Homo sapiens: one gene and its partner. The protein of the gene in region 1 purifies or fractionates together with the protein of each later gene. This does not show direct contact. Each region holds a gene or a part of one and is shown on either strand. Other genes may lie near its edges. The genes, in order: COA8 and CLUH.

Region 1 (2,537 bases):
CCACCTTTACACCTCCACCTACTTAAGCAATGCTGTCATGAGGAGCAGTGCCCAAAGTAAATAAGCGCTTCCAGGAGAAGAAAACCGGTAGCCCATGGGGATTACAGTTCTTCAAGGAAAAGCCATATTCCATTTCACTAATACAGACGACCTGATTCTATGACATGTAAAAGCAAGCTACACTTCTGCTGTTGCCACAGGGAAGGCAGGGGCAGGAGGTGGTGGTGGGGGCCAGGCTCCTCTAAGGCCTGATCTTGGGTAAGGCTGGTCCTCTTCACCCGAGTGCCACAGAGAAAACATGAAGCCCATCAGAGACTGTGCCCCGTGCAAACAAGCTACGTGTCCAAAGACCAGGGAAAGATTATACTCGCTTGTTTGAATGACTTAACTAATTCAGAGTAATACATGACAACCTTAGAAATGGAATCCAGATATTTCAGGACTAATCTTTAGGTCAGACTGTCCCTCACTGAGTCCATCCAGCCTTTGACTGTATCTATATTCTCTTTTTTTATTAGGGTCTCACTCTGTAGCCCAGGCTGGAGTGCAGTAGCGGGATCTCGGCTCACTGCAACCTCCACCTCCTGGGCTCAAGGGATCCTCCTGCCTCAGCCTCCTGTAGCTGGGATTACAGGTGCACACTACCACACCAAGCTAATTTTTGTATTTTTTGTAGAGACAGGGTTTTGTCATGTTGTCCAGGCTGGTCTCAAACTCCTGGGCTCAAGCAATCCATCTGCCTTGGCCTCCCAAAGTGCTGGGAGTACAGGTGTGAGCTACCGTGCCTGGCCCATGTCGACATTCTTGAAGTCTGGCTTCACCTGCCCATCAGGCTTTGTAACTCTGGAACTGTTTTATATATATATATATATTTTTTTAATTACTTACTTATTTATTTATTTATTGAGACAGGGTCTTACTCTGTCTGCCATCCAGGCTGGAATGCAGTGGCCGGATCTCGGCTCACTGTAGCCTTAACCTCCCAGGCTCAAGTGGTCCTCCTAGCTCAAGCCTTTCACTATGTTGCCCAGACTGGTCTTGAACTCCTGGACTCAAGTGATCTACCCACCTTGGCCTCCCAAAGTCATGGGATTCCAGGTGCGAGCCACCGTATCCAGCCTACAAATATTTTAAAGCAAATCTCAGATATCATGTCCTATTAATTTCACCTGTAAATACAGGTCATTATTATCTGTAACCAGCTAAAACCCGTTTTTTTTTTTTTTTTTTTTTTTTGAGATGGAGTTTTGTTCTCCTTGCCCAGACTGGAGTGCAATGGCACGATCTCAGCTCACCGCAACCTCCACCTTCCACGTTCAAGCGATTCTCCTGACTGAGCCTCCGGAGCAGCTGGCTAATTTTGTATTTTTAGTAGAGACAGGGTTTCTCCATGTTGGTCAGGCTGGTCTTGAACTCCTGACCTCAGGTGATCTGCCCACCTTGGCCTCCTAAAGTGCTGGGATTACAGGTGTGAACCACCACACCCGACCTAAAAAAATTGGTATCTTTTTAAGCCACTGCAGTCACTTAAAAAATAAAGTTGATAGACGAGGCGCAGTGGCTCATGCCTGTAATCCCAGCACTTTGGGAGGCCAAGGCAGGCGGATCACGAGGTCAGGAGATTGAGACCATCCTGCCTAACACGGTGAAACCCTGTCTCTACTAAAAATACAAAAAATTAGCCAGGCGTGCTGGCGGGTGCCTGTAGTCCCAGCTACTCGGGAGGCTGAGGCAGGAGAATGGCGTGAACCCAGGAGGCGGAGCTTGCAGTGAGCCAAGATGGCGCCACTGCACTCCAGCCTGGGCGAGAGAGCGAAACTCCGTCTCAAAAAAAAAAAAAAAAAGAAAAAAAGAAAAAAAAAAGTTGATAAAGTCTTGCAACTTCTACCTCTGATATAAACATGAATGTTGTTAAATTCAGGTAAGAAAACACTCCTACCTAATCTGGATGTGCTATTCAAATTTTCAGGAAAAGAGTAAACACCTACCTGTTATAATACATGTGCTTCTGAAAATTTTTACTTAAAAATTCCTTGTAGAAGTCCGCCATTTCTTCTGCATTCAATGTTGCTTTCTGACCTGAAAGGTAATTTCAGCTTAAACATTAAGACTTAAGGAGAAAGGATAAACAAAAAACTATTAGAGCTAATAAATGAGTTCAGCAAGCTTGCAGGATATATACAAGACCAATATACAAACATCAATTGTATTTCTATACACTAGCAATGAACAGTCTGAAATGAAATCAAGAAAACAATTCTACTTATGATAGCATCAAAAATAATAAAAGACTTAGGAATAAATTTGAGAGGAGACGTGTAAGATGTGTACACTGAAAAATACAAAATAGGCTAGGTGCAGTGGGTCACGCCTATAATCCCAGCACTTTGGGAGGCCAAGGTGGGAGGATCACTTGAGGTCAGGAGTTCATGACCAGCGTGGCCAACATGGTGAAACCCCATCTCTACTAAAAATACAAATATTAGCCAGATGTGGTGACTCACGCCTGTAATCCTAGCACTTTGGGAGGCCGAGGC
Region 2 (3,819 bases), on another chromosome or scaffold:
CCGCTCCAGGATGCCGGGGATGATGGACTGGGCCGTGACCCGGTAGCCGCGGTAATCCACCACCACCGTGCCCAGCGTGTACAGCCCCTCCACGTCCACCGCGTTGTACGTGCGGACGCCATTCAGGTCGTTGGTGGGCGCCACGTAGGCCGCCACGTCCCCCCCGAAGTCCTTGTAGTGGTCTCGGACGTCGAAGCCCAGGCTGAAGAAGATGTTGTTCCAGATGAACATCTGCATCTTGGTCTCCTCGCTGGGGTTGATGGCCATCACGTTGCCGTCAATGACGGCCATGGCGCCCCTGGTGGCTGCCGCGGTGAAGTCGCTGTGCACCTGGCGGGGGTCGAGGAGGGCAGGGTTAGAGGCCGCGCCCACAAGAGCCTGCATCCACCTGGCCAAGCGCACGCACCTAGACCGCGGAGGCAACCGGGCCTGCCTTGGAAACCCAAGGACCCGGAGCCTCAGTTTCCTCATATGTAGAAAAGGGCAAGAAAACCATGTTTTGGCCGGGCGCGGTGGCTCACACCTGTAATCCCAGCACTTTGAGGGGCCGAGGCGGTCAGACCACTTGAGGTCACGAGTTCGAGACCAGCCTGACCAATATGGTGAAACCCCATCTCTAATAAAAATACAAAAAAAATCAGCCAGGCGAGGTGGCGCGCGCCTGTAGTCCCAGCCACCCGACAGGCTGAGGCAGGAGAATTGCTTGAACCCGGGAGGTGGAGGTTACAGTGAGCCGAAATCACACCACTGCACTCCAGCCTGGGGGACAGAGTGAGACTCCATTTCTAAAAAAGCGCAAACAAACCAAAACCCCCATGTTTTGAGAATACACTTGTGCTGAGGGAGACAGCAGGGCTTAGTGATTAACAAGCGTGCGCAGGTTTGGGATCCACCAGTTATGTGCCAGGTGAACTTGAACAGATAAAGGTATTGACCTTTACAAGTTGTCCAATATATTATAGGAAATAGTCTCTATAACGCACTTGGCACCATCTCTGGTGAAGTCGGTACCCGAGAAATGAGTTTTTGTTTCTACAATTATCATCTCTAGGCAGTATAACTATGGGAGGTTGGTTGTTTTCAGACAGGGTATCACGCTGTTGCCAAGGCTGGAATGCAGCGGCACGAGATCCGAGCTCACTGAAGCCTCGACTTCCCCTGGCTCAGGCCATCCTCCCACTCCAGCCTCCCGAGTAGCTGGGACTACAGGCACATGCCACCATGCCTGGCTAATCTTTTGTATTTTTTGCAGAGACGAGGTTTCACCATGTTTCGTAGGCTGGTTTCCAACTCCTGGGCTCAAGTGATCTGCCTGTCTCAGCCTCCCAAAGTGCTAGGATTACAGGCGTGAGCCACTGTGCCTGGCTGAGATTTCTTTTTTTTTTTTTTGAGACGTAGTCTTGTTCTGTCGCCCAGGCTGGAGTGCAGTGATGCAATTTCGGCTCACTGCAACCTCCGCCTATTGGGTTCAAGCAATTCTCCTGTCTCAGACTCCCGAGTAGCTGGGACTACAGGCATGCGCCACCACACCCAGCTAATTTTTGTATTTTTAGTGGAGATGGGGTTTCCCCATATTGGCCAGGCTGGTCTTGAACTCCTGACCTTGTGATCCGCCCGCCTCGGCCTCCCAAAGTGCTGGGATTACAGGCATGAGCTACTGAAGCCGGCCTGAGATTTTTTTTTTCTTAAGCAACTGCTTTTCCTCATTTCTCTTAGTAACCCAGCACTAATAACTTTTAAACCCCAGCAAACTAAAAGTGTTATGCAAATGAGCACCCGCCCTAGAAGGGCCATGGCCGGCCAGTGCTCGCCCAGGCAAAAGCCCCGCAGCAGTCACAGAGGGCGGGAAGCTGCACGGCCCTGGACACTCAGTCCCTATGGGAAGTAGGGCCCGCTCCTTCCAGGGACTCAAAGCCTCAGAGAGGCCAGAGAAAGGTACTGGGATGGTCTGCTGGGAGGCGGAAGGCTAGCAGACCCTGCGGGAGACGCTGACTGGCCTTCGGGGAACCTGACAGGGTTAGGGCTGCCCCTGCCTCCCTTGCTTTCCTCCTCTCCATGAGAAAACCCGTCAGCAGGTGGACAGCGGGCCTCAGACTGCCGGTCAGCAGAGGCTGCAGGCACCTTGAATATGGCCCTTTCTCGGAGCAGCCGCTCAGGCAGGTTCTTGCGAGGCAGCTCCCTCGTCGTCTGCAGCTCCTCATTCCAGTCTCGGGTCTGCAGAGAGATCAGGGAGGGAAAAACGAGCTCAGCCTGTGCCCTGTGACCTGCTCCCGGAAGTCGCTCCTTCTACCTTCCTGAGAAGAGCCCCAGACTCCCAAATGAAGTCAAGCATGGGGCCTCCAGGGAAGTGCACGGAACCAGCCCAGCACCCAGGAGGGCAGGGGTGCCCAGCGAGGGCAGGGCCAGGTTGCAGGCACCTGTCCAGGAATGTGCTCCTCATAGCCCAGCCTCGAGGTGTAGGCGTCCTCTGCACGCACGCAATCCATGGCATGCTCCGCCTGGGGGGCTGTCCAGCTGTACACCTGGAATGGGGTGGCGATCCTCTCGAACGGGTGGCGCTGGACCCTGTGGCAGGCAGGGGAGGGGGAGATGGGGCAGCCCACCAAGCTCAGAGCCCTTCCACGGGCCCCTTTTCTGAGGCCCCCGCCTGCTCCGGCATCTCCCACCCTGAGACACTGCCCTGGAGCCAGATGGAAGTGCACGGGCGCCTCTCCTGCGGCTGCTGTCTCGGCACTGGCCGACAGCTCCCTAGAGCGGGGACTCCAACACTGGGGGCCCAGGGCGGTTTCTTCAGACAGAAGCACTGGAGTGCAGGTGGGCCGGCTCACCCCATGCCCCCGTGTGCCATGAGACAAGGCGGGAGGGGACAAAGGCACTACCTTTTCTTCTGCAGCACAGCGAAGTTCTTCTTGAAGGTCGGGCTGATCTGGTTGAGCAGCTCCACTAGGGAATGGCTTAGGAAGCGGGGGCTGGCGGGCTTGGGGTTGAAGTGATAAGCTGTGGACCTGCAGGGAGAGGGCGGGCACTGAGCGGGGGCCCAGGTGTCTGCCCAGACCCAGGACGGCTGGCACGGCAGGGGGGTGTGGTGGGCTGGCAGGGACTCACTGATTCAGGTAAAAGCCCCGTGTGGACGCGGTGATGCTGACTTGCCGGTCCTCGGCTGTGATCACAAACAGGTACATGAGGTCCCCGTGCATCTTCCGGTTCCCCGGGGGCGGGTTCCATCCGCTCATGGTGAGTACTTTCAGGCACTGCAAGGGCTTCGGGAGCGGCCGAGTCTGAGGGGCCAGGCCTCTGGTGTGGGGCCTCCACCCCGCCAGGGACCCTCTTCCTCCCTCCCCCAGGATCCTACCTTCCAGTCACGGTTTTGGGGCTGCAGGGGACACAGTGGCCGCTCCCGGCTCCCTGGCAGGATGTACTCGGGTGGTGTGCAGTCGATGGGGTCCATCTCCAAGCCCTTCTTCCGCTTCCCGCTGTCTGAGGGACCCGAGGCTGGTGGTCAGCACAGGGCCACCCAGGGCCAGCTGTCTCCCTACCTCCTGATGGCCGTGGTCCGGGTGCCTCAGGCCCAGGCCCCTCGGCCCCTTCTCCAGCCCCCCACCTCCGTGCTCCCCGCCCTTTGGCCCAATCCCCGGCCCCAGTGCCTCCCGCACCTCCCAGGTCGCCGTCGGTGAAGACACTCAGGAAGGACAAGGAGTTGCAGTCAACCCCGTTGAAGGCATCGGATGGGTCCAGGCTCTTGAGCAGGTCTCGGACATGGCGCACGTGGATGCGGGCCTCACGCACCGTGTACGGCTCTGTCAGGAAGGCAGGGAGGGT

The links.
Region 2: the proteins of COA8 (region 1) and CLUH purify together in Homo sapiens (affinity purification with mass spectrometry; 3 studies listed by BioGRID and IntAct, with this or other methods). This does not show direct contact.

Annotation. Positions count from the first base shown.
Region 1 is NC_000014.9:103,586,816-103,589,352, reverse strand, and holds part of COA8 (cytochrome c oxidase assembly factor 8), read right to left. Parts: intron 2,080-2,537; coding exon 1,989-2,079; intron 1-1,988. UniProt on the Homo sapiens protein: Required for cytochrome c complex (COX) IV assembly and function Protects COX assembly from oxidation-induced degradation, COX being the terminal component of the mitochondrial respiratory chain.
Region 2 is NC_000017.11:2,698,261-2,702,079, forward strand, and holds part of CLUH (clustered mitochondria protein homolog), read right to left. Parts: intron 3,798-3,819; coding exon 3,654-3,797; intron 3,478-3,653; coding exon 3,353-3,477; intron 3,261-3,352; coding exon 3,106-3,260; intron 3,006-3,105; coding exon 2,880-3,005; intron 2,566-2,879; coding exon 2,418-2,565; intron 2,215-2,417; coding exon 2,122-2,214; intron 331-2,121; coding exon 1-330. UniProt on the Homo sapiens protein: mRNA-binding protein involved in proper cytoplasmic distribution of mitochondria.